2 separate regions of the Homo sapiens genome follow, and region 2 is linked to region 1. The links come from fine-mapping of genetic effects on gene expression. A gene starts in region 1. The other region holds a variant in brackets. All regions are shown on one strand. Distances are from middle to middle.

What was found. PIP is the estimated chance that this variant, and not a neighbour inherited with it, causes the effect.
Region 2: its variant is fine-mapped to the expression of NARS2 in skeletal muscle (FUSION, PIP 0.95).

What each region holds. Positions count from the first base shown.
Region 1 is chr11:78,571,227-78,586,833 of GRCh38, forward strand. NARS2 (asparaginyl-tRNA synthetase 2, mitochondrial) reads right to left here and starts at 3,638. Exons shown (of 14, transcript NM_024678.6): 1 at 3,122-3,638; 2 at 109-218. The coding sequence starts at 3,262. It also overlaps the pseudogene RNU6-311P and the pseudogene COPS8P3. RefSeq lists enhancers at 3,024-3,133, 3,794-3,933.
Region 2 is chr11:78,030,478-78,046,084 of GRCh38, forward strand. It overlaps NDUFC2-KCTD14 (NDUFC2-KCTD14 readthrough), which reads right to left. Exons shown (of 3, transcript NM_001203262.2): 2 at 8,187-8,281. The coding sequence ends at 8,187. It also overlaps a transcript of KCTD14 not described here. Among named protein-coding and RNA genes, the nearest start is that of KCTD14, 15 kb to the left of the region's middle. RefSeq lists enhancers at 1-271, 9,111-10,067 and silencers at 1,393-1,462, 6,566-6,860, 9,704-9,763. The variant C/CAA (reference allele first, on the strand shown) is at 8,591.

The sequences.
Region 1 (15,607 bases):
TTTCAAAAGATTACTCAGGGGTCCAACGTAAACACTGGAGTAGGGAAGTGAGAAGCACTAGAGGTGAAAAACAAAAATCAAAGAATTCTTTTAAAAAACAAAACTCACCTACTGTCAAGGCCTGAATCTGCAACAACCTGAAGGCTTTCCAAAGATGACCCATCATTTACATGCAGGAACAAGACTTCCTTCTGGGATCGGACAGAACGAATCCATCCCTAAGGAAGAGAAATATTTCCAATGTGAGCGTAAAACATTTTACGTTTTCATTACACATACACACACAGACTAAATGAAAGTAAAACATGTACTCACAATCCTGCCTCAACAAATCAACTTCTTTTAGTTCACCAATATGCATACTTAATTTTATATGTTCCAATCACAATAGGATACACACTTTGGTATTCTATCTTTTGTTTTCGTAATAATGCACAACATTTCGAATGGATGCCTAACATTCCTTCATGTTGATGAGCCTAATTCATATAATCAATCCTCCCAATATTGGCAATTCCAGGTATTTCCTCCCAGAGCCCTGCCCTCTGGCCCAACAATAAATAACAGGGCACATATCTTGGTGCCTTTCTCAGGATGTGGGGTGCGCCCTTCTTTCTGGTTTCATCTCACTGCGCTGCCCAGAAGGCATCTCCTCTTTGGTGATTCTAAATCAACAGTAATTTCCAGGTTGGGCACAGAAATCTCAGCACTTTGGGAGGCCGAGAAGGACGGATCACTTGAGGTCGGGAGTTTGAGACCAGCCTGGCCAACATGGTGAAACCCTGTCTCTACCGAAAATACAAAAATTAGCCGGGAGTGTTGGCGCTCGTTTGTAGTCCCAGTTACTGGGGAGGCTGAGGCAGGAGAATCGCTTGAACCCACGAGGCGGAGGTTGCAGTGAGCCAAGATCGCGCCAGTGCACTCCAGCCTGGGTGACAGAGCAAGACTCCATCTCAAAAAAACAAAAAAACACAAAAACTAATTTCCAAACGACTACTTTCTTACTTTCACTTGTTAAAGTTAACATTTATTGAGCACTTTGTAATGTGCTTCTATTCTAACCTCTTTATAAATATTATGCTACTTAATCATCAGAAAAACTTAACGAAGTGGTTATCATTTTAGAGCTGATGAAACATTATTTAGAGATGTCACGATAACCTCTCTAAATAGTCCAGGACATAGTCACCGATTAGTAGAGTTGAGATTCAAAAGGAATTTCTTACTTCAAAGTTCATGTTCTTATCAACGAGCTTTTCTGGGATGCTATTATAATTCTGCCCCATCCCCAGCTCCTCTGCCTAGGGAACACATCTTTCAGGACTTGGCTGAAATATCACCTCATGCAAGATATCTTCCTTAACCTTCTCAGTTACGTAACTTCCTGTTTTCTTATAGTTCTTTACTTACCTTACTACCAACTATCCTATTGCTAAAATTATTTGTTTTAACCATTGGAGCAGGGCTGTCCAACAGAAACATAATGTGAGTCACATGTTTAATTTAAAATTTCTTTTTGTGGCCACGTTAAACATAAAAATAGATGAAATATTTCACTTTAACCTATTATGCCCCAAATATTATCAACATATAATCAATATAAAAACATATTGAGATATTTTGCATTCTTTTTGGTTCTTCAAAATTGGTATGTATTTTACACTTATAGCACATCTCAATTTGGACCAGACAAAGTTCAAGTGCTCAGAGCCAAAAGTGGCTGGTAGCTACCATATCAGACCTCACAGGACTAAACTGAAATCCTCTAACCTGGGCAGCAGGTTCTCTTTTCATCTTTGAATTTTCTCTTGACTAGCACACAAAGTATCATTAATGTATACCCAATCAATAGACCAACAGACCTATGGAAAGAATATGGAACTCAAAGAGGAGCAGATTGGTCATACCGCTAAAAAGTAAAGGATATGTGAGGACAACAGAAATCACTGCAACGGCAAGCCATGACTGTGTCAGTACAATCATGGGTGACAAAGCAAGAACCTACTCAAAAAATAAGTATTTATTATAACAACATCTACCAGGCTTATGCCTGTAATCCCAGCATTTTGGGATGCCGAAGGAGGAGGACTGCTTGAGTCCAGGAGTTTGAGACCAGCCTGGGCAATACAGTGAGACTCATCTTCACAAAAAACTTAAAAAATTATAGAGTGTGGTGGTGCATGCCTATAGTTTCAGCTACTCTGGAGGCCGAGGCAGGAGGATTGCTTGAGCCTGGGAGATGGAGGTTGTAGTCATCTGAGATCACATCACTGCGCTCCAGTCTGGGTGACAGAGCTAGACCCTGTCTCAAAAAATAAATAACCACATCAGTGTACTTCAGCAACCTAATAAGAAACAGTCAAACACCTTGTTTATTCTGCACCTCTTCTATGTGGAGCTGCTGCAAATAATATAATCAGCAAGAGAAACAATAGCAGCTAACATTTGTAGACTATGAGCCACTGTTCTAAATATCTTACTTCCATTACCTCATTTAATTTTCAGGACTCAGGGACAATTATTATCTCTTTCCATAAGAGGAAAATAAGGTGTAGAACGCATAAACGCTATGCAGAGATTTAAACCTAAGCAGCTTAACTCCAGAGCTCTTTCAAACTGCTACATTCCAGTCTTTCTCCGAATTCATTAAAAATAAATTACATGCAGACCCCCACAATAGGCACTGAGGTCGCTAAAAGTTTAAAAGGCATGGTTTGAACAAGTATTTGCTGTCAGCCATGTGTGAATACAAAGGCAGGTAAGACACGGTTTCTGCTCTCAAGGAGGGAGGTCAAGACAACCACTTTATAAACCTGGATATTCATTATAAGGGATAAAGATAGAGAAAGGGGGCTTGTTCATTTACACTTTTGGTATGATTAACAAGTTTACAGGTAATACCCTGGAATCATGAAAGCAAAGTTCCAGCGCTTTACAGTTATCGGAACAGTTTTGTGAAAAGTAATGGAAATCAGAAAAGTGCAAACCCGCGACGCCTACACTTTCTAACTTTTCCCTGCTGGCGGTTGTGTCTGACCCGACTGTAAAAGAAAAGCTAGATGTGGATGTGCCATATAAAAGTCCCTACAAGAAAAAACCCACTCCCTTCCCATTCACCAACCTGGATCTTAATGCGCTCCCCACTCGCGTTCTGAGCCCCGAGAGCGTCCCGCACGCTCAGTTTGGCTGAAGGTTTGTGCTTGGGGAAGGGGGCGGAGGAACAGAAGCGCACGGACCGCAGCAGGCAGCGGACCCCCAGCATCCCGCGTCCGCCCAGGCCCTCCGCGGGAGCAGCCCAGACCCCACGGTTCGAACCCCGCCTGCAGCGGCCCTCCTTTCTCAGCTGCTCCCCTTCCGCGGCCGCAGCTCTGCTCTAAGGCACTCCAGAGCCCCTCGGCTGCGCGCTTTCTCCTTCAGGACTCCCAGCTCTGTCCCCACAGAACCTCTCCGCTTCCCACTTCCCAACGGGGCGGAATGGACAGGACACTAGGCAAACGCCAGAAAGAAACCACGTGCAGTTGGCAGCTGGGGCGCCCCACTACCCGCGACAATTGTAAACCTACGAACAGAACCCGGGCCGCAACACGCGCAACCACTCCTACCACACCACGCCAACGCCGCTTACGTCATCACGCTACGGGGAAGAAGGGAGAGCATGCGTACTTGTGACCCAGGCTTAGGGAGGCGTGCGGGAGGGGGCGGGGTCAGGAGCCGAGACGGGGCGGAGCTAATGCCCTAAGGTTGTAGAGATTATCGCTGAAAGAACGTGGGAGCACATCTGAGGGTCTTCATTTCTAAAGTTTCCAGGTGAGGCTGAGAAACTGAGAGGCAAGGAGTGACTGATGGAGAGGGAAACCGTCTCCATCAGTCAACAATAGGGATCCAAGTAAGAGGAGGCTCTTAGCTGTTAACAGGATTCGCTTGAAGAGATCAGTCGTTCCTTTCCTGAGTACTCCGCAGAGAAAAATCAGACATAGCCCCAATGCGCAAGTCACAGTTGTGTGGTATCAGACAGCTAAACAGACAGTTGCATAAAAGGGCGATCAGTTTGCCTGACAGAGCCTAAGCGTGGGACGCCAGAGATGGCTTCCTGGAGAAAGTAGTCCTCTGACAGGTAAATAAAAGGAACTGGAGGGACCTTGCATATGGCAGGCAAGACGGTGGGAAGATGTTGCAGAGACTGGAGGAAACTCGAGTGTTTCCTGCCAGAATCCTCCAAGTCTCCCTCTTCCCTCTGCCCTCCAACACAGCTATCTGCATTTGTTTGACCTGGAAACAATGACCCTTTTATATATTAGGCTACGTTTTATTAAAAAAAAAATTCTGTAACTCAATGACGGTCATTAAAAGGTTTTTAATCTAATTTAAAAAGTAAAACGTTTGGCCAAGTGCGGTGGCTCACGCCTGTAATCCCAACTCTTAGGGAGGCAGAAGCAGGAGGATTGCTTCAGCCCAGGAGTTCAAGACCAGCGCTCGCCCTCGCTGTCTCTCTCCCGCTCCCTCTCACTCTCACTCTCTCTCTCTCACTTTTACCTTACTTAAAGTTGCTACTATTATTATACCCATTTTACAAATGAGAGAACTTACGCACAGAAAGGCTAGATGACCTACTTAAGGATACACATTCCCTAAGTGTGAGATTTAAACCCAGAAGTGCTGGCTCTATGCACTTAAGCAGTATGCTGTATTACATAGTGTCCCAAGGTGATCTGTTCCATCAAGGAGCTCATGCTTTAGAGATGGAGACAAGCAAGAAAAGAGACTACTGAAATATAAACCAGTAAGTGCACACATAGATGTATGAGTTGTCTGCATTTGTTTGGACTGAAAAGTCACCCTTATATATTAGGCTACCTCTTAAATTTATCCAAAAAATTATTTTTGATATTTTATCCAAATATTATATTGGATAAAATATAATACAATTATAATATATACATGTATCACAATTTTATATTTTATATAATATAAATGTGTTCCCTGGTTCTTTTAATAAATTAAAATTATAAATATAATAAAATTATAATTATAAATTATAATATATAATTAAATTATATTGGATATATTATATATTATATACTTATAATATAAAATATGTTGGATAAAATATAATATAGTCTAGAGAAGGAGAAAATTAAGCTGAATTTTTGAAGTGGATCAATATTTTGCCAGGTAGGCATGTAAGAAAATTTCCTGCCAGAAGGTGAACACGGAAGGTTGCCAGGAGGGCAAATGGCCTGGAAAAATTGTAAAATCATTCTTAAGACAGGCTAGAAAATATCTCATCTGAAAATACTTGATGTTGGAGGTGGAACCTAGTGAGAAGTGTTTGGATCATGAAGGCCTTGGTGCCACCCTTGCAGGAGTGAATTCTCAGTCCATTAGTTTTTGCAAAGCTGATTGTTGAAAAGAGCCTGGCACCCCCCTCCCTCTCTCTTCCTTCCTCTTTTGCCATGTGATGTTTGCTCCCCTTTGCCTTCCTGAATGGCTGAATGACAACAAACCTTGACATTATTTACTTTGAGTGGAAGCAGATTCTGGTGCGATGCTTCTTGCACAGCCTGCAGAACTGTGCAAATAAATGAATACACTTCTTATCGATCAAAAAAAATATATAGGCCAGGCGCAGTGGCTCACGCCTGTAATCCTAGCACTTTGGGAGGCCAAGGTGGGCAGACTGCCTGAGCTCAGCCTGGGCAACATGGTGAAACCCTATCTCTACTAAAATATAAAAAATTAGCTGGATGTGGCAGCATGTGCCTGTAGTCCCAGCTACTCGGGAGGCTGACGCAGGAGAATTGCCTGAACCTGGGAGGCAGAGGTTGCGGTAAGCTGAGATCACGTCACTGCACTCCAGCCTCAGCAACTGAGTGAGACTCTGTCTCAAAAAAAAAAAGAAAAAGAAAAGAAAAGAAAAGAAAAAAATACTTGGGCACTTCTTGAACCTTGAGAAAGGAAAAATGGAAACTTGCAGCCAATGCCTTCAGAATTATGCAGCTATGGACTTTTAAGGGAAAAAAAGTTCGCTCGTTCAAAATCTGGGGAACAAGACAGTCTGGGGTACATAACAATGATGTTTATCCCAGTGAAAATCTTTTCTTTGCCTATGCCTACCCTGTCCAAGTGATCAAAAGTAGTAACCAGTTGGCTCATTTCTTACTCATGCCATTTTTCTGTCTTGCCTTCTGCTATGGCTTGGATATGATTTGTTTGTCCCCACAAAAACTCATGTTGAAATTTAATCCCTGATGTGGTGGTGTTGGGAGATGAGGCCTAATGGAAGTGGTCTGGTGTATGGGAGCAGATCCCTCATGAGTGGCTTGGTGCTGTTTCCGTGGACTGCATGAGTTCTTGCAAGAATGGGCTTGTTTCCACCACAGTAGGTTGTTATAAGGCCAGGATGCCCCTCAGGGGTTCCCCTTTTTGCACATGTCCACTTCCCCTTTGACCTTCTTCACCACGTTGTGATGCAGCACGAAAGCCCTCACCAGAAGCCAGGGCCATGCCCTTGAACTTCTCATCGTGTAGAACCATGAGCTAAATAAACCTCTTTTCTTTATAAATTGCCCAGTGTCAGGTATTCCTTTACAGCAACATAAAATGGGCTAAGGCACCTTCTTTCTCTCCCAACTCCCCTACTCCAGGGAACAATGTGCAGCTTAAGAACTGGAGTCTGAGTCCCAGGGAGTGAGGCTCCTGCCTTCCTTTACCCTCTCACTACTTGTTTAAGCCAAAAGGTTAATTATGTTCTTAGCAGGGGACCACTGCCCCAGTATGTTGAAGACAAGAGAAAAAGTTTACTATACAACTTACGCTTCTGGTGCTCAGTTCAAACCATCCCCTGTATCTTGTGCTATATCAAATCACATCATCTTCTTGTTTATTTTTGTTTTCAGTGTTGGCTTGACACCTTCCCTTTTAGATTCATCACCTTCCAGACAGGAGTGCAAATGATGTTTTTAATATGAATATATAGTTGACCCTTGAACAACATGGGTTTCAGTTGTGCCGGTCCACTTGTATGTGAATTTTTTTCAATAAATATATTGGAAAATTTCTTGGAGATTTGTGACAATTTCAGAAAACTTACTAATGACCTGTGTAGCCTAGAAATATCAAAGCATTTAATAAAAAGGTCATGAATTCACAAGATACATGTAGTTACTAGTCTATTTTATCATTTACTATCATAAAATATACATAAGTCTATGACAAAAAGTTAAAATTGGCTGGGCGCAGTGGCTCATGCCTGTAATCCCAGCACTTTGGGAGGCCGAGGCATGCAGATCACTTGAGGCCAGGAGTTCAAGACCAGCCTGGCCAACATGGCGAAACCCCATCTCTACTAAAAATACAAAAATTAGACAGGCATCGGCCAGATGCGGTGGCTCATGCCTGTAATCCCAGAACTTTGGGAGGCTGAAGTGGGTGGATCACCTGAGGTCAGGAGTTCGAGACCAGACTGGCCAACATGGTGAAATCCCGTCTCTACTAAAAATACAAAAACCAGCCAGGTGTGGTTGCAGGTGCCTGTAATCCCAGCTACTGGGGAGGCTGAGGCAGGAGAATTGCTTGAACCTGGGAGGCAGAGGTTGCAATGAGCTGAGATCAAACCACTGCCCTCCAGCCTGGGCGACAGAGCAAGACTCCATCTCAAAAAAAAAAAAAAAAAAAAAAAAAAAGAAAAACGAAAAAAAATTAACCAGGCGTGGTGGCACATGCCTGTAATCCCAGCTACTCAGGAGGCTGAGGCAGGACAATTGCTTGAACCTGGGAGGCGGAGGTTGCATTATGTCACTGCACTCCAGCCTGAGCGATGGAGTGAGACTCTGTCTCAAACAAAACAAAACAAAACAAAACACCCACGGACCTTGCATGGTGCTATTCATAGTTGAGAGAAATTGCTATAAGACATGCAACCTTAAGCTTTAACAAATAGGGCCAAATTTTTTCCAAAGTGTCACCAGTGTGACCAGCCATATATGAGAGTTTCAGTCGCTTTACATTCTTGTCAACACTTGATCTTTTTTTAATGTGGAACACTTCATAAATATATGTGTCATCCTTGAACGGGCCACGCTAATCTCTGTAACCTTTCAATTTTAGTATATATGCTGTTTAAATGAGAATAATACTTGGTCTTAATCAAACTTGCTCTAGCAGCCGTATTGGTGGGGAAGTGGTTGTATCCACTGCTGTTTTAATTTGCATTCCCCTGATTATTATTTTTGTTTGGCAGCTTTTCAGTGTTTATTTTCATTGGACTTTCTTCTTGGTAAATTGACTGTTTACATCTTTTGCCCATTTTTCTATTGAAAAATGAGTAGTCTTATTTTTCCTAAAGACTACTTTTATTGAGTAGTCTTTTTTCTTATTAATCTATATAAGTTCTTTTGTCCATGTTTTAGTTACGAGTTCTTCTCAGTTACATGCATTGCAATATTCAACCACTCTGTGGGTTGTCTTTTCTATGGTGTATTGTGAGAAAATGGCTGAATGACAGCAAATCTTGAAAATATTCGATCCTTTTCTTAAGAAAGAGTGAATAGTTCTTGAAGAAAATTATTAAGACATTCAAGCATTAGTCTTTATATTTCTTCTGGCAATGTAAGACCAGTGCTTTTGCCATGTCTCCTGTTATTCTTTAGAAAATGGTTTCTTTTCCTAATTTATATTTCCTTACATTTTTTTGTTCTTGTTGCACGGTTAATGACCTTCTCCACAATTTTTATGTGGTGATCTTCAAGGAACAATTTTAAAGTTTAGAATTCCACTGTACATTGTTGGAGACTGATTCTGGCTGTTTGCAAATATTTTTGTATATGATTAACCTCTAGTTTACACCGGAAAACAAGATAACTCAAAAAAGAAAAATCATATATTTTCTTTTGAATTACACAAAACTTCAAAGGTTGAGATTCGCGTTTTAAAATTTCTCTTTATTGCTGCTGGGTGCCATGGCTCACGCCTGTAATCCCAGCACTTTGGGAGGCTGAGGCAAATGGATTGCTTGAGGTCAGGAGTTTGAGAGCAGACTGGGCAACATGGCAAAACCCCATCTCCACCAAAAATACAAAAAATTATCCAAGTGTGGTGGTGTACACCTGTGGTCCCAGCTACTCAGGAGGCTGAGGTAAGAGGATCACCTGAGTCCAGGAAACGGAGGTTGCAGTCCATGAGCTATCGCACCACTACACTCCCACCTGGGTGTGGTTGACAGAGTAAGACCTGTCTCAAAAAATAAAATAAAATAAAATTTATCTTTATTGCATACACAGTGTATTAATCCATTTTCATGCTGCTGATAAAGACATACCCAAAACTGAGTGATTTATAAAGAAGAGGTGGGTTTTTTTGTTTGTTTGTTTGCTTTTTGTTTTTGTTTTTCTTTTTTGAGATGGAGTCTCGCTCTGTCACCCAGGCTGGAGTGCCGAGGCAAAATCTCAGCTCACTGCAACCTCCACCTCCCAGGTTCATGTGATTCTCCTGCCTCACCCTCCTGGGTAGCTGAGATTACAGGCATGCACCACCATGCCTGGCTAATTTTTGTATATATGTATTTTTAAATAGAAATGGGGCAGCACCATGTTGGCCAGGCTGGTCTCAAACTCCTGACCTCAAGTGATCTGCCCGCCTCAGCCTCCCAAAATGCTGGGATTTACAGGCATGAGCCACTGTGCCCAGCAACGAAAAGGAGGTTTAATGGACTCACAGTTCCACGTGGCTGGGGAGGCCTCACAATCATGGCAGAAGGCAAAAGGCGTGTCTTACATGGTGGCAGACAAGAGAGAGAACTTGTGCAGGGGAACTCCCGTTTATAAAACCATCAGATCTTGTGAGACTTATTCACTGCCATGAGAACAGCATGGGAAAGACCTGCCCCCATAATTCAATTACCTCCCACCGGGTCCATCCCATGACATATGAGAATTGTGGGGAGCTACAATTCAAGATGAGATTTGGGTGGAGACACAGCCAAACTATATCATGCAACTTCATAATGAGCACTCTGTCTTATCCTTTTACTATTACATCTATATTATCCAGCATTTTCTATTAATGAGACAGAAAAGAATGGACAATTGTTTCCAGTTTCCAAAAATGTTATAAGTGAAGAAAAACTGCTTCTGAAACAGTAAACTCTACAAACGATCAGATTATTTTTTAGGGGGTAGTACTTTATAACTAATATAGTTTAAGTTTACAACTGTGAACAAAAACTTGATCGACCTTTGGTCAGTATTATTATTGTATTAAAATTTTCTACAAATTAAACATTTTTAAAAAGGAAAAAAATGTCTACAGTCCCACATCCCTTTATTGCCTGCACCGTGGGCAGATTACTCTCACTGCCCCACTCTTGGTATGTCTCTGCTGGCAAGTATGATATTTTCTGTAAACTTTTGGCAAATACTTTGTCACCTAAGAAAGTTCCCTGCTGTTCCTGAGGGATTACTACTCACCCAGTATATGGTCAGCTCTAACTACATAATGTCATGAGGAATGAAGGATATATTTGGAAAAGAATGTAGTGTGATTAACAATCTGTAAATTCTAAACTTGAGAAAGTTTTATTCCTATGGCAAAGAATCTGGAAAAGATGTTTTCCTGAAATCCGTGCAGCCATCAGCATTCACCATTGGTCTAAAACTAACAGACAATCCTATAAGCACTTAAAGACACAGAAAGGAGATGAATTTATGCACTGGTTTTTCAAGCAGGAAGATAATTAACGATGACTCTGTACATTTGTTTAAACTTCTTTCAGAAGAGGCTTGTGAAAGGTATATTAGAACGACAATGGCAAGCTGATTCTACTTTTACCTGGATGTTTCCATTAATAGGTGTATTCCTTTAGCAGAACATTCTTGAATTCCACCAATCCCTGTGAACGATAGTAAAGAAGAGTCACAACATGCTTTCCCTGAAAATGGATTTATCCTACTCTTTTCAAGCTTTACTTTCAGACTCATGTGCATTGACAGACACTAAAAAGGTAAAATCTTTATTTTCAATGTATTAAACGATTTAACATTTCTTACTAGAGTATGATATACAGTATATCAGGAAAGAGTATGACATATATGCACTAATCGTAAATTATACAAAAGTCATTGATTCAACTCCCATTTTTGTAATATTCTAATGTTTACTAACTTGGGAGAAGCCCAACAAAATTATAAAGTTTAGTTTACTTTTCTTATTGACTGGTTATGGTAGCCAGCCTTTAAGATGGCCACAATGATTCTTGCTTCCTGGTATTCACACCCTTGCATAGTCTTCTGTGACATTAGTCATATAGGATTAGTTTATGTAACCAGAAGAATACAGCAGATACGCTGGTGTGTGACTTCTGAGGACAAGTCATAAAAGACATCACTCCTTCTGCTTTCCTTTCTTGGATCACCTGCTCTGGGGGTACTAAGTCCCATATTGTAAAGATAACTAACCCTAAGAAGATGTCAATGTGGCAAGAAACTGAGGCATCCTGCCAATAGTCAGGGCCACTTTGAGATATGTGCATAAATCATCTTAAAAGCAGGTCCTCTACCCCTGTCAAGCCTTTGGATTACTATAGCTCCAGCTGATCTTGACTGCAACCTCATGAGAGACCCCTAGCTAGAATCACCAAGCTAAGCCATCCCCAAACATCTGACCCACAGAAACTGTGAGAATAATAAATATTTACTATTGTATTAATGCATATGTTTTGGGATAATTTATTATACAGCAATAGCCGACTTACACACTAGATAAATGTATCTCTCTTCAGTTTAATGTGGAACATTGGCCCTCACTAATTTTCCCCTCTTTTCTCCCAGGATAAGACACACTATTGTTAATAACACTGGCTCATAGTGGTAGAAGGGGTGGGGAGTAGGGGGATAAATCTGAATTCCTTGAGATTCCTTCTAGAAAAGAAAAACACAATTTCTTAACACTCAGATACTCTTCCTTAGGGAATATAAGAATTTCCTCCTCATTCTCTGGGAATCAGTGATGTGAAATATTAACATACAGTTGAAAAACAGGTTTTCTCCTTAAAATCCAGTTTCATTGTAGATATTTCTGACAGTGTGAGTACATCTACTGCTGGCAGTGTAGGGCTTGGCTTTAAAACTGGACTTCTTTGAGAAAAGCAAGGGAGGCTTGTATCCCTTTCAAAAGAAGAAAAAAATGGTCTGTCACATAGTTATATTGGAAGAGAAGCCATTGAGATAAATGCTAAAGTTTGTACAAATATACTGCATTTGCTCATTGCTTCTTTCTATCCCTTGGTTTGAGTTCTACATTTTAGAATAATATAGAAAAACTTTTTATTAACTTTATAAGGACTCTGTGAGTATTTGAATTACTATGCCCTAAAGTTAAACATCTCTGTTTTATTATCCACTGTCCAGTTAGCATTGGAGCTCCCATCTGTGGCTGGAACCCTGTGTTTCCTGGAATCCTCTTCCATTTGTGATTCCAGATTGGTTTTCCAATAAGAGAAACTCATTAGTTTTTAAAGCAAAAGACATTCTCCTTAGAAGGTAGTGGTGGTTGGTCATGGCAACTTCCTCAGGCTCAGTAACTTTACAGGCATCTCCATTTTGTTTTTCTACTTTTGCAAATATATGTGACATGGTGAAAAAGTCTAATATTCACATAATTTGAGTTTCATAAGGAGAGTAAAGAGAGACATAATTAGAACAATACTTGAAGAGATCATAGCCACGAATTTTCAAAACTGGTAAAAGACATCAAACCACAGACTCAAGAAACTCTACAAACACAAGCAGGATAAAAAACAAAAAACAAAACACTCTATTCCTAGGCACATAGTAAAACTCCTGGAAACAAAAAGAAAAGAGAAAATCTTAAAAATAGTTTCACTAAATTCAAAGGAGTAATAAATAAGACAGACAGCTGACTTTTCAAAAGCAATTATGGAACCAAAAGACAATAGTGGTATCTTTAAAATTCTGAAAGAAAATATCTGCCAACCTAGACTTCTATACCTGAGAAATATCCCTCAGTAGTGAAGGTTAAATAAAAGAGGTTTCAGATAAACAAACGCTAAGACAGTTTATTATTAGTAGACCCACACTACAGAGGTCTTCAGGCAGAAGGCAAATAATCCCAGAGAAAAGTGTGAAAACTCATGAAGGAATAAAGAACAGTGGAGGGTAAAAGTGGGTAAATCTAAACAAATATTGACTGTATAGAACAATGATAACAATGTCTTGTGAGGCTAAAAATACATATAAAATTAAATATACAACCCCAATAGCACAAAAATCAGGAAAGAGGTAAATGAAATTAAAGCATTGTAAGATCCTTGCATTGGATGGGAAATAGAAAACTAGTTTAGAGTAGATTTTTATTATATCAAGAATGTACACTGTAATAATTACTATAAACAGAAGAATGGGTAATAAATTATGGTATATTTATGTAACTAGAATCAAAATGAGTAGAATACTGCTACACACACCAATAAGGATGACACTCAGCAGGCATGGTGGCTCAAACCTGTAATCTCAGCACTTTGGGAAGCCCATGTGGGCAGGTCACTTAAGCCTAGAAGTTTGAGATCAGCCTGGGCAAAATGGTGAAACCCTGTCTCGACAAAAAAAAAAATAATAATGATAAAATAAAATAAAATAGCTGGACATGGTGGCATGTGCCTGTAGTCCCAGCTATATGGGAGGCTGAGGCAGGAGGATGGACTAAGCCCAGGAGGTCAAGGCTGCAGTGAGCTGTGTGTGTGCCACTACACTCCAGCCTGTGTGAAAGAGCAGAGCTTGTCTCAAACACACACACACACACACTCTCTCTCTCTCTCAAAAAGGAAAAAAAAGGATGACGCTCATGAACATAAAGTTGAGAGGAAAAAAAGCCAGACACAAAAGAATACATATTGTATGATTCATTTATGTAAAGTATTCTAATGGAAAAACTAATCTATAGTGATAAAAGCCAGAAAAATACTTAACTTTAGGGAAAGAGTGGGAGGAATGAAAAGGGAGGCTTCTGGGTGATGGTAATTTCTACTTCTTGATCTGGAAGGGAGGTAGATATATGGGTGTATTCACTTTGTAAACTTCATTATTTCTATGCTTTTATGTATATAAACTGTATGTTAAACTTCAATTAAAAGTTTACTTTAAAAATACTATGTTCAGGCCAGGTGCAGTGGCTCATGCCTGTATTCCTAGCACTTTGGGAAGCCGAGGCAGGAGGATGGCTTGAGGCCTGGAGTTCAAGACCAGCCTGGGTGACATAGTGAGAGCCCATTTCTGCAAAAAAAAAAAAAAAAAAAAAAATTTTAAATGAAATAGCTACGCATGGTGGTGCACACCTATAGTCCTAGCTACTCTGGCTAAGGCAAGAGGATTGCTTCAGCCTGAGAGTTCAAAGTTACAGTGAGCTATGATCATGCCACTGCACTCCAGTCTGGGCAACAGAGCAAAACTCTGTCTCTTAAAAAAAAATTATGTTGGTTGTGCAGTGAGCAGGGTAAAATAATTCTGGCTTCACCATGTACTAGCCAGGTCACTATGGGCAAGGACTTTTGCTGTCATAGGTAAGGGATGAGTTACTTCTGTGAGACGGAGATAATATTTGCCTCACAGGGTTGTCAAAATTAGCAAATGAAATAATCTATTAGACATTCCATAAGCTATGTTTATTTCATCATTAAGACCAAAGGGTATGCACTTTTATCATCCTCATTTTATAGATAAGGCAGCTGAGAGACAAGAGTTTAAGTAGGTTGCCCAGGGTCCCTTAGATGATAAACAGCAAATATTAGGATTCAAACTCTCATAGTCTGGTTCCAGAATCTTTTCTTTTGCTCACTATGTGAATGTCATAAAGACATAGATTTTTTATTTTTTATTTTTTGTTCACTGATAATTTCATATGCTTAGATCTGGCAAATCATATGACTTCATTAAAATAAACAGTACCTCACTCCTGTAATCCCAGCACTTTGGGAGGCCGAGGCAGGTGGATCATGAGGTCAGGACATCAAAACCATCCTGGCTAACACGATGAAACCCCTTCTCCACTAAAAAAACTCAAAAAATTAGCTGGGTGTGGTGGCGGGCGCCTGTAGTCACAGCTACTAGGGAGGCTGAGGCAGGAGAATCACTTGAACCCAGGAGGCGGAGGTTGCAGTGAGCTGAGATTGCGCCATTGCACTCCAGCCTGGGTGACAGAGAAAGACTCCATCTCAAAAAAAAAAAAAAAGTACCTTTCACTAAATTAAAATTAAAAAATAAAATAAAATGATGACTACTTGGCTGTAGTTTAACTGTTCTAAGAAATGTGTTTTGATGTTTTGCTATAAGATAGTACTGCCATTCATAATTTTAAATCTGCAGAAGTGAATCATTTGACTTTGCTGGGTGCTCATCAAACATTCCTGCCACCTGGTGGTAACATATATAAATTGCAAGGGGAGATATTTTTAAGAAGTAAATTCCCTTTGAGACCTGAATTGGCACAAGACCTCTCTGAGGTAATGGCTGTTAAGGAGAGAGCTCCTCCTGTAGCCTGAATTTTATGTTTATTGAGAATTTAGAGAAAAGCAACTTTGTAAAGATTAAGATTTTTAAAA
Region 2 (15,607 bases), 540 kb before region 1:
TGAGATGGTCTCTGTGATCCTGCCTTGCTTGATGCTATGGCAACAAAAGAATTCAAACAGCCCCTTGCTATTGCCTATCACTGGATCTTGTTTCCCTTTGGCCTGACTCCAAGAGCAAGCACTGCTTCCTTCTGCCCTCCCCTCACTCACTCCCCTCTGTTCTTCAGGAGACAATGCGGCCAGCCCCTCTCCCCTCCAGGCGGCTGGGCTTTAGGCCAGCCAGCCAAATGGCAGCTGGGACTCAGATGAAAGGGCCCTCAGAAGGCTGCTTGTGGCAGAGTGCCCAGCCTAGCCCAGCCCAGGCTTGGCAGCCTGGGGCTCAGCTGTGCCACGAGGCATCCTGTCCACCCGCTCCCATACAAGGCTCCCTCTGTGAGTCCTGCAGAGAAGGAGACCCCTGCCAACCCACAAGGACCCTCTTCCCCTCCCTCTGCTCCATACCTGCTTGAGAAATATGCAAGTCTGTAGAGAATGGTCCAGGACTACATCAGATTGATCTGACTGTGCCAGGCACTTTGGAGAGCTTTATCCCATTGACTCTTCAGAATAACGCTGATAGCAAGTAATGGTTTTTTTTTTTTTTTTTTTGAGACAGAATCTCACTCTGTCACCCAGACTCTAGGCTGGAGTGCAGTGTCACTAACATAGCTAACTGAAGACTCGACATCCTGGAATCAAGCAACCCTCCTGCCTTAGCCTCCCAAGTAGCTGGGATTACCGCTAACACCCAGCTAATTTTTTTTACTTTTTTGTAGAGATGGTGTCTCACTATGTTGCCCAGACTGGTCTCAAACCCCTGAGCTCAAGCAATCTTTCTACCTTGGCCTCCCAAAGTACTGAGATTACAGGTGTGAGCCACCATACCTGCAATCTCTTTTTATTTATTTGTTTATTTTTTAAAATTTATTTTATTTTTTTTGAGACAGGGTCTTGCTCTGTTGCCCAGGCTGCAGTGCAGTGGTGTGATCTCGGCTCACTGCAACCTCCGCCTCCAGAGTTCAAGCAATTCTCCTGCCTCAGCCTCTCGAGTAGCTGGGATTATAGGCACCAGCCATCATGCCTGGCTAATTTTTGTATTTTTTTTTTTTTTAGTAGAGATGGGGTTTCACCATGTTGGCCAGGTTGGTCTCAAACTCCTGATCTCTAGCGGTCTGCCCACCTCGGCCTCTCAAAGTGCTGGGATTATAGGCGTGAGCCACAGCACCCAGCCCGTAATCCCTTTTTAGAGAGGAGGAACACATATTTGCCTACTGTGTGTCAATCATGGCACCAGGCACTGGGGAAAGAGCAGTGAACCAGGGGACAAGAGCTAACCTCAAGGGGCCCATTGTCAGCTGTAATTGAATAACCACAGAAATGAATATCTGGTTTCACAGTGTGACCAGTGCTCTGAGAAGAAAGTGGAAGAAACTATAGATATGGATAGACATGCTAAAGAGCCCATAGGTAATGGTGGATCACAGATAATGGTGGCTCACAGATAATGGTGAACCAATGTGTCCTCCTTCCCTTTGGGAAGTCCCCCACTCCACCCAGGGAATTCTTTATTTAGAAGCAAGTCCCCTGAACTCTGGGAGCCTCATATTCTTCAGTTCAAAAATGGGAGTTTTGATGCCCCTACCATTTCTGGGAGGAATCTGGGAGGCCCTGTACTGTCAGTGCCAGGCACAGGGAGGCACTGGGAGGAAGTATGGCTGGGCTTCCTTCAAACCACTCCACTTGATTGGGTCCCAGCCCCAGCAAGCTCCTTTCTGGAGGGAGCAGGCAGCCAGAGCTTCTGGATAAGGTTAGAACCTGCTCAGTTTCAGCCTTGACTGGAAGAACAGAGAGCCTGGCTGGAAGCCAGGCATTTCCCCAGTTCACCAGCTCTTGGGTCTTTTAACCCCAAAAATGCCTCTTGCAAGGCACAGGAGTCAAGATGCCCAGGCTAGGAAATGGTAGTAAAAGGTAACCTTTGTTTCACAGGCATTATCTCATTTAATCTTCACAACAACCCTATAAGGAAGACTAAAGGAAGATTAAAACCACCCCCATTTTCCAGGTGATGAAATTGAAGCTTAGAAAGCCTATTTTGCTAAACCACGATTCAAATCCAGGCATTCTGGCTTCAGGAACTGCTCTGTTGTCCACACCCTGCCCTTCCAGGCCAGGACAGTACTGCCCTACTCCCAGCCTTGCCCTCTTTCCTCCACATCTTCTCTGGGAGAACATAAAGTGATCTACTTCTTTTTTTTTTTTTTTTTTTGAGACAGCATCTCAATTTGTCACCCAGTCTGGAGTACAGTGGTGCAAAGATGGCTTAATGCAGCCTCAACCTCTCAGGCTCAACCATGTCACCCCCAACAGGTACAGCACCATGCCCAGCTAATTTTTAAATTTTTTTTATAGAGCTGGGGGTCTCACTATGTTGCCCAAGCTGGTCTCAAACTCCTAGGTTCAAATCATCCTCCCACCTTAGGCTCCCAAAGTGCTCAGATTACAGGCCTATCCCATGATGCCCAACCATAGTCTACTTCAAATCTACCACTAGGCTGCTGTCAGACCTGGGGCCTCAGTGTCCTCATCTGCAAAATGAGGAGGGAAGAGTTGGGCTTGAGTATGGTTAAGATCCCTTCCAACTCTATCAGTCTTTGTTCTTTCTAGCATAAGTGGTGTCAGCATAAGCCCTTGAAAGGCATGAGGTACCATTTCCATTCTTAGGATTAGCCCCTAGAGCACACATGTGCAAAGACACTATGTGCACAAGAATGTTCGTTGCGTCATTGTTTGCAAAAGCAAAAGACCAGAAGCAGCCTAAATGTCCATCATTTGGGGACTGGTTAAATAAGAATATATCCATATAGTAGAACACTCTTCTATTATTGAAAATGAGGTGAATCTCTGTGGCTAATATAGGAAGGTCACCAAGATAACAAAGACAGGGGCAGGGCACGGTGGCTCACGCCTGTAATCCCAGCACTTTGGGAGGCCGAGGAGGGCAGATCACTTCAGGTCAGGAGTTCAAGACCAGCCTGGCCAACATGGTGAAACCCTGTCTCTACTAAAAATACAAAAATTAGCCGGGCATGGTGGCAGGCACCTGTAGTCCCAGCTACTCAGGAAGCTGAGGCAGGAGAATCACTTGAACCCAGGAGGCAGAGGTTGCAGTGAGCTGAGATTGTACCACTGTACTCCAGCCTGGGCAACAGAGCGAGACTCCTTCTCAAAAAAAAAAAAAAAAATTAGCCAGCTGTTGTGGCACATGCCTGTAATCCTAGCTACTTGGGAGGCTGAGGCACGAGGATTGCTCGAACCAGAGGTAGAGGTTGCAATGAGCCGAGATCACACCACTGCACTACAGCTTGGGTGACAGAGTAAGACTCCATCTCAAAAAAAAAAAAAAGATAACAAAGAAAATAATAGTGTGTGTGTATGTGTGTGTGTGTATATATATATATACACACATTATATATAATACATATATGCACACCATTGCATTTGCAACGGTAATTTCTGGAAAGATATAAAGGAGACTTAGTCATCATTACCTCTGGAAAGAGGACCAGGAATACATCATGGGACAAAAATTACTTTTTTGTTTCTGAAACAGGGTCTTGCTCTGTCACCCAGGCTGGAGTGCAGTGGATGCCACACCCAGCTCTTTTATTTATTTATTTTTTTGAGACAGGGTCTCACTCTGTCACCCAGGCTGGAGTTCAGGGGCGCCACAATCACAGTTCACCACAGCCTCAACCTCCTGGACTCGAGAGATCCCCCGACCTCAGCCTCCTGAGTAGCTGGAACTACAGGTGCATAGCACCATGCCTGGCTAGTTTTTAAATTTTTTGTAGAGACGAGAACTTCCTGTGTTGCCCAGGCTGAACTCCTGGGCTCAAGCAATTCTCACTGGCTTTCCAAAATGCTGGAATTACAGGTGTGAGCCACTGTGCCTGGAGGAAAATTACTTTTCATTGTATATTATTTTATACTGTCTTAATCTTTCTCTCTCTCTCTCTCTCTCTGCCTCTCTCCTCTCTCTGTTTTTCACCCAAACACTCTGTATGGGTGTTTCTTTCTTTCTTTCTTTCTTTCAAGTCATGTGTGGAGGACAGATTGTGCGACCTGGGTTCAAGTCCTGGCCTTGACATTAACTACATGGTCTTGTACAAATCTCGTCTTTTTGCTGGGCTAAGTAATCTTTCAGGTCCCTTCAGTGCAGAGGTGGGAACGGACAGCCCACGTGTTTTCAAGACAGTCTGAGTCATCCCCAAACAGACTATAGCCAAGCAGGGGACCCTGCTCACCGCGGCCTCAGTGATCTCAATCCCTCTTGCCTGAGTTTATGGGCCATGAGCTCTCCGAGGTACACTGTAGTGAACATGTGTAACATTTCCACCCTGCTTTTATTCACTCTCCTTTGTAAAGAACAACGGCTTTGCTTCGGGGGCCACCCTCTTCTTTACTCTCTACCGCCACCATCTTGCCACCATATGTAGCCTGAGATTGAAGTTAACCTACAAAGGAACATAGAACTAAGAGTTGATGAGAACCTGATTGCCGGCTATCATTTGAGCACTGATGAAGCTCTGCCTAAGGCCCTACCCCTGGAGTTTCCGGTTAGGTGACCGAGGGTTTTTCTTTTTGACTTACGCCACTTTACAATGGGTATATCTGTCACTTCTGGCATTCTAAAGAGGCCAGTGGAAGTGGAGAGCATGCTGTAACTCTTCTACCTGTCTCTCCAGATCCACTCCAGCCTTTTCTACTCTGGGAGGCTGATCCTTTTGGGGTGCATCCACAGGCTTCCATGCACCCTGGCTTCCAACTGAGTTTGGCCAATGGGAGCTTAGCGGGAGATCAGAGGCAAGAGGAGGCAGAAGCCAGAATATTCCTTCCCGGGCCCTCTCCCTGTCGAGTTCCTATACATTGGCTGCATCCCTCTTCTGAAGGTCCCAGCCCGTGATAGCTGTCTCCACACAGCTATCATCTCAGTTCTGCTAACTGCCCCCTTCCTCACCCTGTTACTAACCCTCAGGGTCTGCACTATCTCTTGTTACTCTCCCCAAACCCTGCCAAAGGGACTCTTTGTAAAGAGTCGCTTTATGGGCCAGGCGCGGTGGCTCACGCCTGTAATCCTAGCACTTTGGGAGGCCGAGGCGGGTGGATCACTTGAGGTCAGGAGTTCGAAACCAGCTCAGCCATCACAGTGAAACCCTTTCTCTACTAAAAATACAAAAAATTAGCTGGCCATTGTGTTGCGCACCTGTAATCCCAACTACTTGGTAGGCTGAGGCAGGAGAATCATTTGAACGCAGGAGGCAGAGGTTGCAGTGAGCTGAGATTGTGCCACCACACTCTAGCCTGGGCAACAGAGCGAGACTCCATCTCAAAAAAAAAAAAAAAAAAAAACAGTCCCTTCATGGCCGGGCACAGTGGCTCACGCCTGTAATTCCAGCACTTTGGGAGGTCAAGGGAGGCGGATCACTTGAGGTCAGGAGTTTGAGACCAGCCTGGCCAACATGGTGAAACCCCGTCTCTACTAAAATACAAAAATTAGCTGGGTGTGGTGATGGGTGCCTGTAATCCCAGCTACTTGGGAGGCTGAGGCAGGAGAATCACTTGAACCCAGGAGGAGGAGGTTGCATTGAGCAGAGATTGCACCACTGCACTCCAGCCTGCATGACAGAATGAGACTGTCTCAAAAAAAAAACAAAAGAGTCCCTTTATGAAAGTCTCCTGAAATACCCAGCTTGAGAGAGCTATCTATGTTCTGCCTGCATATCTATATGTGTTTCAAGTGTGAGTGTGAATGTGTGTGCACACATGTGCATGCATTGTGTCTATGCTGTACACTTGACAGTCTCAAACTGGGACAAGAGGGGAGCTGATTTTCACAGGTGCTCACCATGTGCCAGACTCCATGCAGGGTACTTTGTATGCACGATTGAGTTTCATCCTCACAATTCTATAAAGTGGGTATTTTTAGCCACATTTCACAAAAGATAAAACCAAGGCCCAGAGAGGTGAAGACACTCACCTAAAGTCCCACAGCTAAATAAATAGAGGAAACAGGATTCAAAACCCATATACATCTGGCTGTAAAGCCTGTGTTCTTTAGCCTCCTCCCGGCACTGCTTTCCCAAATGCCTGGCTCATTCTCATACTTTAGATCTCAGCTTAAATGTTACCTTTCCCAAGAGGCCTTCCGTGACCACTCTATTTGAAGGCTGTCATCAATGATTCTTTTTAGTAAGACATTACTTTTCCTTCAGGACATGCCTTTGTTTACTGAATGTCTGCCCCAAGCTCCATGAGGGCAGCCAGTCTCCACATCTGTGATTTTGTTCACCACTGTGATCCTGGTGCTGAGCACATGTGGCTGCTACATGCTAGGCCCCGGATAAATCGCTGCTAAGTGAAAACATGGCAAAGGAAAGGAACAGACATGTATTAATTGCCTGCCCAATGCCAGGCATTTTACACAGTTTGTCTTAGGAAGTACATGCTGTTGTCCCATTTTGCTAATGAGGAAACCAAGGCCAAAGAAGGAATATGACTTTCCCAAAGTCACGGAACCATGAGCCAGGGTTCAAAACCAGGTCCCTCTGAGCCACAGCTGTGCTCATTCCATGGTGCCCTCTGTCCCCTACTCAGGTGTCCACCACAGGATGAGAGGCAGAGGGGCCAATCAGTAAAACTCATGTGAATCATTCCTGGACAATCAGAAACTGGGGAGCAAATAGTGCCTGCTGCAACCACTCCCCCGGGGCCAGCCACTCTCAGACCTCGTGGGCACACGCCCTCCCAGCCCAGCCAGGACACATCCTCTTCCCTGTTTGCCCTCAGGCTCTAGGCCCAGCTCCACCTATTCTGTGACCTCCACAAACACTGTTTCTGGGCTCTCTTTGCAGGGCTACTTATGGCTGATAACTTGCTCTCCAAGCTCCCAAGGGCCAGCTCCAAGGCCCTGAGCACCAGGGACTGGTGCACTCCTGAGCCCTGTGAGTAGGCCAGTTCACCAGCTGGTGCCAATAAAGAAGGGACCTCCTGCTGAGCCCCCAGAACTATACTCATCCCAGGCTGGCACATGGGAGGACCTTTTCCTACCTCCTCCCTTTGCTTTCAGACCCTGCCCATGTTCCACTTTAAAATCACTGCCTCCAGCCAGCCTGGCCAAAATGGTGAAACCCCGTCTCTACTAAAAATACAAAAATTAGCCGGGTGTGGTGGTGGGTGCCTGTAATCCCAGCTGCTCGGGAGGCTGAGGCACGACAATCGCTTGAACCCGGGAGGCAGAGGTTGCAGTGAGCCAAGATCGCGCCACTGCACTCCAGCCTAGTCAACAAGAGTGAGACCCTGTTTCAAAAATAAATAAATAAAAAAAATCATTGCCTCCCTAATGGGAGGCTTCTGGGATGCTGAATAAAGTTCTTTTTCTTGAGCTAGGTGCTGGTTCCACAAGTGTGCTCACTTTGTGAATATTAACTTAGGTGCATTCCTCTGTGTGTAAGTTACATTTCAATAAAAAGTTGACCAAAAAAAAAAAAAAAAATCAGTGCTACCTGACTCTTGCCCCAGGCTTCCCCACCAGACCAGCATGGATTAAGGCACTCTGCCCCCCACACCATCCTTTCTCTCTACTTCCCCAAACATATCCAGAGGCCCTTCCCATGTAAGGGTTTCTGACTGAAAATTGGCCAGCAAAGACAGGACAGAACGAAGTAGCCAACATGGGCAGCGTCCCAAGTCTTGGGACCTCGGGTGTCCTGTTCCTGGTGGACAGCTCCTCCTGCCTTCTCTGAGACATCTTTTGAAGCCCCATAGGCCTTTCCCTGGTCCAGTTCGAGTGAGAGGTTCTCGCATCCTCTCCCTATTCTTACCCCAAACCTCTTTCTCAGGCCATGCTGATGGCCTCTGGCCTGCAGGGCCAATTTTCTGGTGCCCAGGACCACGTGCAAACAATTATTGTTTACCAACTGTCCACTGTCACTCAGAAGGGCATCTCCCATGGCCTGGACCCAGGACCTCTCCCAACTTGTCCTCCTTGGGTTCCTGGAGAGGAATCAACCGCACCCCATCTGGCTCCCCGCTCACTGGCTCCCCAGCCCAAGTGCGTAGGCCCCAGCTGGTTACCCCAAGTGAACAGCTTCTCCACCATCTCACACAGCCCAGACACCTGGACCCAAGAGAGGGGGTGACCTGCATACCTAATGGGTGGTGGCAGCAGAACTCCCCACAGCAAACACAGCAGGGGTGTCAGAGAGGGATCCTGGGGACAAGCAACAGAGGCCAATGTCACCCCCTGAAACAGAAAGAGAATTTCTTAGAAGACTATCAGTGTTCACAAAGGACGAGGACCAGGAGTTCAGAGGGCCCAGGCCAGGAGCCTGACTGGAGCCACACTGCAGAACTGGATGGCTACTGCTGCTGTGGTCACGGTCAGGCCCGGATGTACCAGGGGCTGCCAGCAAAAGAATCCCATCTCTTGCAAGGGATTCCATAGCGGGAGCAAGGGCCAGGAATTGGCGCCCTGCCTAAAACTCATGGGAATTTCCCCAGAAGGGAGAATATGGGGCTAGGAGGGAAGGAGTAGAGTCTGGACTTTAGATTA[C/CAA]AAAAAAAAAAAAAAAAACACAAAAAAACAGGTGTCTCTGACCACAGGGTTGGGCTGAACTGAATTTCAAGAGGACCTTGAACTGGGACAGGGTTGGTGCCACCCCTACTACATATATATCCACTAACAAAACTTGAATCATGCCATTTAAAATATTTATTTAACCAGGCCAGGTGCGGCAGTTCATGCCTGTAATCCCAGCACTTTGAGAGGCCGAGGCAGGCAGACCGCTTGAGCCCAGGAGTTCAAGACCAGCCTGGAAAATGTGGAGAGATCCCATCTCTACAAAAAATACAAAAAAAATAAATAAAATTAGCCAGGTGTGGTGGTGTGCTCCTGTAATCCCAGCTACTCAGGAGGCTGAGGCGGGAGGATTGCTTGAGCCCCAGTAGTTGAGGCTGCAGTGAGCCATGATCTCACCACTGTACTCCAGCTTGGGTGACAGAGCAAGACTCTGTCTCAAAAAGAAAAAAAAAAAGAAAAGATTTATTTAAACATGTATGAGCCTGGGGCAACATGGTGAAACTTTGTCTCTACAAAAGAAAAAAAAATAGCTAGGCATGTTGATATGTGTCTGTAGCCCCAGTTAATCAGGAGACTGAGGTGGGAGGATCACTTGAGCCCAGGTGGTTGAGGCTGCAGTGAGCCAGTCTGGGAGACAGAGTGAGACCCTGTCTCAAAAAAAAAAAAAAAGTGTACTCATTTTTTCCACCTGGTATCGTGACGATTTCCCCCATATGAAGGGCTCTTCTGTACCACTTTTTAAAATGGCGACAGAGCATTGTGTTGTATGAATGTATCATAAATCTACTAAGCCACATTTTACTTCTTTCTTCTCTCCTTCCTTCTGTATTTTTTCTCTCTTTCTCTACTATAATAGTGCTGCAGTGAGCATCCTTGATAGCTAAGGCACTGTGCAAGGAGTAGGCACTTTTTTGAGCTCTTATTCAGTGTTTCCAAATTACTAAGAAAGCTGTGCCCACCATCCAGGCACACAGAGTGTGGCTGCCCTGTTTATGTTTTTGCCCCATGTTCAGAGTCTGACCTCCAACAGACTTCCGGGGCTGCAGGCAAGGGCTGAAACCAGAGCTGGCCGCTGGCCAGGAGCTGAGAACCAAGCCAAGGCTGCCCCCGTTTCCCGTGTCATGTCTTCCTGGAATCTGAAGTACGGGCATTTTTTCTGGCTGATTCAAAGTACCCTCAGAAACTCACTTCCTGCTCCATGTTCTTTTTCCTTTCTCCTGTCTTCTCCTTCTCTCTTCCTTGTCTCTTTTCTTTCTTTCTTTCTTCTTTTTTTCCTTTCTGTTTCCTCTTTCTCCCTCCACTTCTTCCTGTGTCTCTTCTCTCTTTAACTCTGCTCCTCTTTCTCTCTGGCTCTTTTCTCTTTGTGTGTCTCTCTGCTGTTTTCTTCCTCTTTTGCCTTCTTTCTGCACCTTTTAATTTTCTCCGCCTGGAATCCAGCCTCATTTCTGTGTCTTTTCTCTGTCTCTTCGGTGGCTGTCTGTCCTCCATCCACCACTCCTGTTCTGTGAGTCATCCCTTCCCCAGGGAGAGAAGGCAACCAACATTCTCCTTGCTAGGCCTTGATTTTTTATTTTATTTTATTATTTTTTTTTTTTTGAGATGGAGTTTCACTCTTGGCCCCCAGTCTGCAGTGCAATGGCGTGATCTTGGCTCACTGCAACCTCCGCCTTCCGGGTTCAAGCAATTCTTCTGCCTCAGCCTCCCAGTAGCTAGGACTACAGGTACGCATCACCACGCCCGGCTGATTTTTGTATTTTTAGTAGAAATGGGGTTTCACCATGTTGGCCAAGCTGGTCTCCAACTCCTGACCTCAGGTGACCCGCCCGCCTCAACCTCCTGAAGTGCTGGGATTATAGGTGTGAGCCACCGCGCCCGGCCACTAGGACTTAATTTGAATGGAAGGTGATTTTGCCTCTCACAAAGGACAAAGCTAACAGATCTCCGAAGTGGGAGTTGCCTGGTAAGCCAGGTTGACCCAGGCACTCTGGGCTTCAAGGATTGGGAGACACACAGTCTGTCAAGCTTCCATTAGAGGCTCTATCACCCCAGGGGCCAGCACACTGGGTCTGATGACTCACCAGGGCGGCACTGGCGCAGTGGCAGCAGGATGTAGGTAGGGGCACTGGAGTTTATGATGTTGCTGCAGGGAGCAAACCTACTGTGTGTGGGTGGGCTCAGGGCTGGATGCTGGAGACCCAAGAACACAGCAGACCCAGTCTGCATGAAACTGAGAGACTGGACTAGCTGGATTTCCTAGGCCGACTAAGAATCCCTAAGCCTAGCTGGGAAGGTGACCGCTTCCACCTTTAAACACAGGGCTTACAACTTAGCTCACATGGGACCAATCAGATAGTAAGGAGAGCTCACTAAAATGCTAATTAGGCAACAACAGGAGGTAAAGAAATAGCCAATCATCTGTTGCCTGAGAGCACAGCGGGAGGGACGATGATCAGGATATAAACCCAGGCACTGGAGCCGGCAATGGCAACCCCCTTTGGGTCCCCTCCCTTTGTATGGGAGCTCTGTTTTCACGCTATTTCACTCTATTAAATCTTGCAACTGCACTCTTCTGGTCCATGTTTGTTACGGCTCGAGCTGAGCTTTCGCTCACCATCCACCACTGCTGTTTGCCACTGACTCCCATCCCTCCGGATCTGGCAGGGTGTCCTCTGTGCTCCTGATCCAGCGAGACTCCCGTTGCCACTCCCAATCGTGCTAAAGGCTTGCCATTGTTCCTGCACAGCTAAGTGCCTTGGTTCATCCTAATCGAGCTGAACACTAGTCACTGGGTTCCACGGTTCTCTTCCGTGACCCACGGCTTCTACTAGAGCTATAACACTCACCGCATGGCCCAAGATTCCATTCCTTGGAATCCGTGAGGCCAAGAAAGGCTTGCCACCATCTTGGAAGTGGCCTGCCACCATCTTGGAAGTAGCTCGCCACCATCTTGGGAGCTCTGTGAGCAAGGACCCCTGGTAAAAAAAACCACCTTCACAAAATTATCACAGTGAGAGGAATCTGACATGGCTGACTCCATCTTGCTTCTGGTGTCACAGGCTGACTGTCTTTGCTCATTCCTGGGCATATGCCAAGCTAACTTTGGGAGAAATTTCGTTCATAGTTTAAATGATAATGGCTGGACACGGTGGCTTACTCCTGTAATCCCAGCACTTTGGGAGGCCAAGCGGGATGGATCACTTGAGGTCAGGAATTCCAGATCAGCCTTGTCAACATGGTGAAAACCCATCTCTATTAAAAATACAAGAATTAGCCAGGCGTGGTGGCGCATGTCTATAGTCCCAGCTACTCAGGAGCCTGAGGCACGAGAATTGCTTGAACCTGGGAGGCGGAGGTTGCAGTGAGCCAAGATCCCACCGCTACACTGCAGCCTAGGCAACAGAGTGAGACTATCTCAAAAAGAAAAAAAAAAATAGAAGAAAGAGAAAAGAAAAATCCCTAACCTATGCGCTTTGAACGAGATTGATTTGAGTAATAACTCCATCTCCTACGTGGCATGGCCACCTTCGTGTTGAAGCAGCATCATTGTCTGGGGTAAATATCTGAGGTTCATTGCCTCATGCCAAGGAAATCAAGGACACGGACTCACACAAGGAGTGAGTTTAAGAGAGAAGTTTAATAGGCAAGAGAAAGGGAAAAGTTCTCTCTCCTGCAGAGAGAAAGGCTCCCGAGTGGGTCTTCTGGTTCTGTGGTGAAATGCATGGGGTTTTCTAGACGAGTTTGAGGAGGTGGTGTCTGATTTACATAGGGCACAAAAGATTGGTCAGACCCGGTGTGCCATTTATATAGCTTGCGAAGAAGCTGGCCACCCCACCCTAATTTTTCATTATGCAAATGATTTCCCTACCTGGCCGGTGCCATGTTGCCTGCTTCTTTACTGCACACATGGTTGACAAAGACAAGGGAAGAGGGGCTGGGCACCGTGGCTCACACCTGTAATCCCTGCCTTGGCCTCCCAAAGTGCTGGGATTACAAGTGATCCACCTGCCTTGGCCTCCCAAAGTGCTGGGATTACAGGAGTGAGCCACCGCACTTGGCCTCTGTTACACTTTTAAATGCACACACCCTATGTTCCAGCAGCCCAACCCCTGGCATTTTCTTCTACCAAAATACTCTCATGTGTACTATGTAGTAAGATATTTGTTGCAATGTTGCTTGTATTATCCACAAAATAGGAATATACTCAATATCCATTCATTAGAATGGTTAGATAAAATGATGATGTCTCTTGCTATGGAATAACTGTCATCGCTAAAAAAGAATGAGGTATTCAGATAAACCAAAAGTAGGTTAGTAGTGCTAGGATGACAGGTGTGAGCCACTGCACCCAGCCTGTGTGTGCTTTTCGTATGAAACAATTAAACATACTCAATAAAACAAATACCATCCTTGCTTGCAAAGAGCTCAGAATCAAGTGAGGGGATAGACTGAGACAGAGGGAATGCCAACAGAATCCTTCGTGACAGGGCTGGCACAAGCACAGTGGAGGGGCCCCCTGAACCAGCTCGTGGGGTGTCAGGGAAGGCCTCCTGGAGCAGGTGACATTTTGACTCGGGTCTTCTAAGACCAAAAGGTGTTGGTCAAGTGGAGAAGCAGGGGCAGGATTCTTCTGGTGGAAGGTGAGGCAAAGTGGTGCAGCCCACATGCAGCTGACAGAGAAGGAAGGGTTTCACTCAGGGAACTGATGGCAGCTTTGTCTTGGGTGGATCCTCTGAGGAAGTCTCTTCTGGCTCGAGGTGACAGACACCCTGAATAGCTCTTAGGGAAAGTCTGGAAACTAATACAATGTAAATGAAGACTTTCCAGTAGGCTCAGAATTTCAGCTGAGGCCCCAAAGGCAGAAACAAGGCCAGAGTTGCTGATCCTAAAGTGAAGCTGGACCACCCACCTAGGATTCCCCAGAAGGGAGAACAGAGTTAAAACCCACCTCTTCACCTACTTCCTGACCACAAAGAGAGGCGACATCCCCAGAAGCTGGAGGGGAAATTTCTCTGGACAGAGTTGTCAACGTGCTCCCTCAGCCTGTTCCCCAGCCCACACCCCAAAACAGGGAGTAGAGGGCGCTGCTCTCCCTCACCTCTAACCAGGTGAGCGAGGCTTTAGGAGAACTATCTGGGGAGTCTTGGAGGTGGAGACTCTGGGGTCTGGAATCTGCCTGGCACCTAGCAGGGTGTGGAGGGGCTGCTAGGAAGGGGCTGCACTGCCAGCTGTGTGCTTCCTGTGACCCACATGTGGACCCCGCAGAAAAATCTTCCTGAAAAGGACCTGGTGGAAGAGAGCTTCTATCTAGGGGTGAGGGGACTCCGGCAGAATGAGACTGGAGGTGTGAGGAGGGTTGTAGTAGCTGAGGGGCAGTAAGTGAGTATAACCCCCAGTAGGTTCTTCCGCCCACTGCACAGACAAAACCAATTCACTGAGACCACGCAGCATTGTAATAAAGATATAGTTTAATTGCCACAAGGCCAGCCATGCCGCACAGGAGACGGAGTTATTTCTCAAATTGTTAGCAGTAGTGAATCTGTACGGGTCTGTAGTAACCTCCATTCTTGCCTCCTCAGAGGAAAGAATTAGTCGGAGGGGCATAAGGCAGAGGGAGTGACCAAGGCAAGTTTTAGAGCAGGAGTGAAAGTTTATTAAAAAGTTTTAGAGCAGGAACAAAAGGAAGTAAAGTACACTTGGAAGAGGACCAAGCAGGTGACTTGAGAGATCCTTGTCCGGTTTGACATTGGACTTGGAGCTTTACACCTTGGCATGCTTCCGGGGTTTTGCGCCTCCCCTCCCTTGATATTTCCTTGGTGTGGGCTGTCCACATGCACAGTGGCCTGCCAGCACTTGGGAGGGGCCCGCATGTGTAGTATGTTTACTGAAATTGTTCACATGCTCATTTCAGGCATTTTTCTCTTACCAGTCAAGTGTTCCTAGAGGAAGGTCACACACAAGTTAAGCTGTGCCATTTTGCCTCGTAGGTGTGAATGCTCAAGCCCACTCACCCAACTCCTGAGATCTTTTTTTGAGACAGGGTCTCACTTTGTCACCCAGGCTGGAGGGCAATGGCACAAACACAGCCCACTGCAGCCTTGACCTCCCAGGCTCAAGCAATCCTCTTGCCTCCGCCCTCAAGTAGCTGGGACTACCAACACATGTCACCACGCCCAGCTAATTTTTTTGTATTTTTTGTAGAGACAAGGTTTGCCATGTTGCCCAGAGTGGTCTTGAACTCCTGAGCTCAAGCAATTGCCTGCCTTGGCCTCCCAAAGTACCAGTCTTAGGTTCTACGATAGTGATGTTATCTGCAGGAGTAATTGGGGAAGTTGCATATCTTCCCTCTGCCTCTGGAATAATGGTTGGCAATCGTTTATGTCTGCACCTTAGCAGAACTCAGGCTCAACATCCTCCTGACCTGGTTGGTCTTTCATTAGCTTTACAAAGGCAGTTGAGTTTTGGAGAAGGGCTGCTATCATTTAAACTATAAACTAAATGTCTTCCAAAGTTAGCTTGGCCTAAACCCAGGAGTGACCAAAGGCAGTTTGGAGGTTAAAGGCAAGATGAGGGTTGGTTAGATCAGATGTCTTTTGCGGCCCTAATTTTCTCACTGTTATAGTTTTTTCAAAGGCAGTTTCATAAGCAGCCCTGGGGGAGACAGCCCCTCTTTATAAGGGTACTACTGAGGAGAGATGTGAGGGTTTTCATAACGCCCGTCAAAGTGCTCCCAAAAGCCCAGAGTACTCAGGTCCTCCTCAGACGTTGCTGCCCCTACCGCTTCTCCCCCACCCCACCCAGGAAGAGTCCGAGGCAGCCTGTGTAGGGGCAGGAGGAGCAGAAGAGCTGGGTGAGGACGCAGGGAGGCTGCCGGTCCTCTCCCCAGTCAGCAGGTGTCCCAGTTAGAGGCAGCCTCAGGAGGGGAGCGTTTGCCAGAATAATGGCCTGCACTTAGACACAAGCTGGAATTACCTGACAGTAAACCGGGGAGGACTC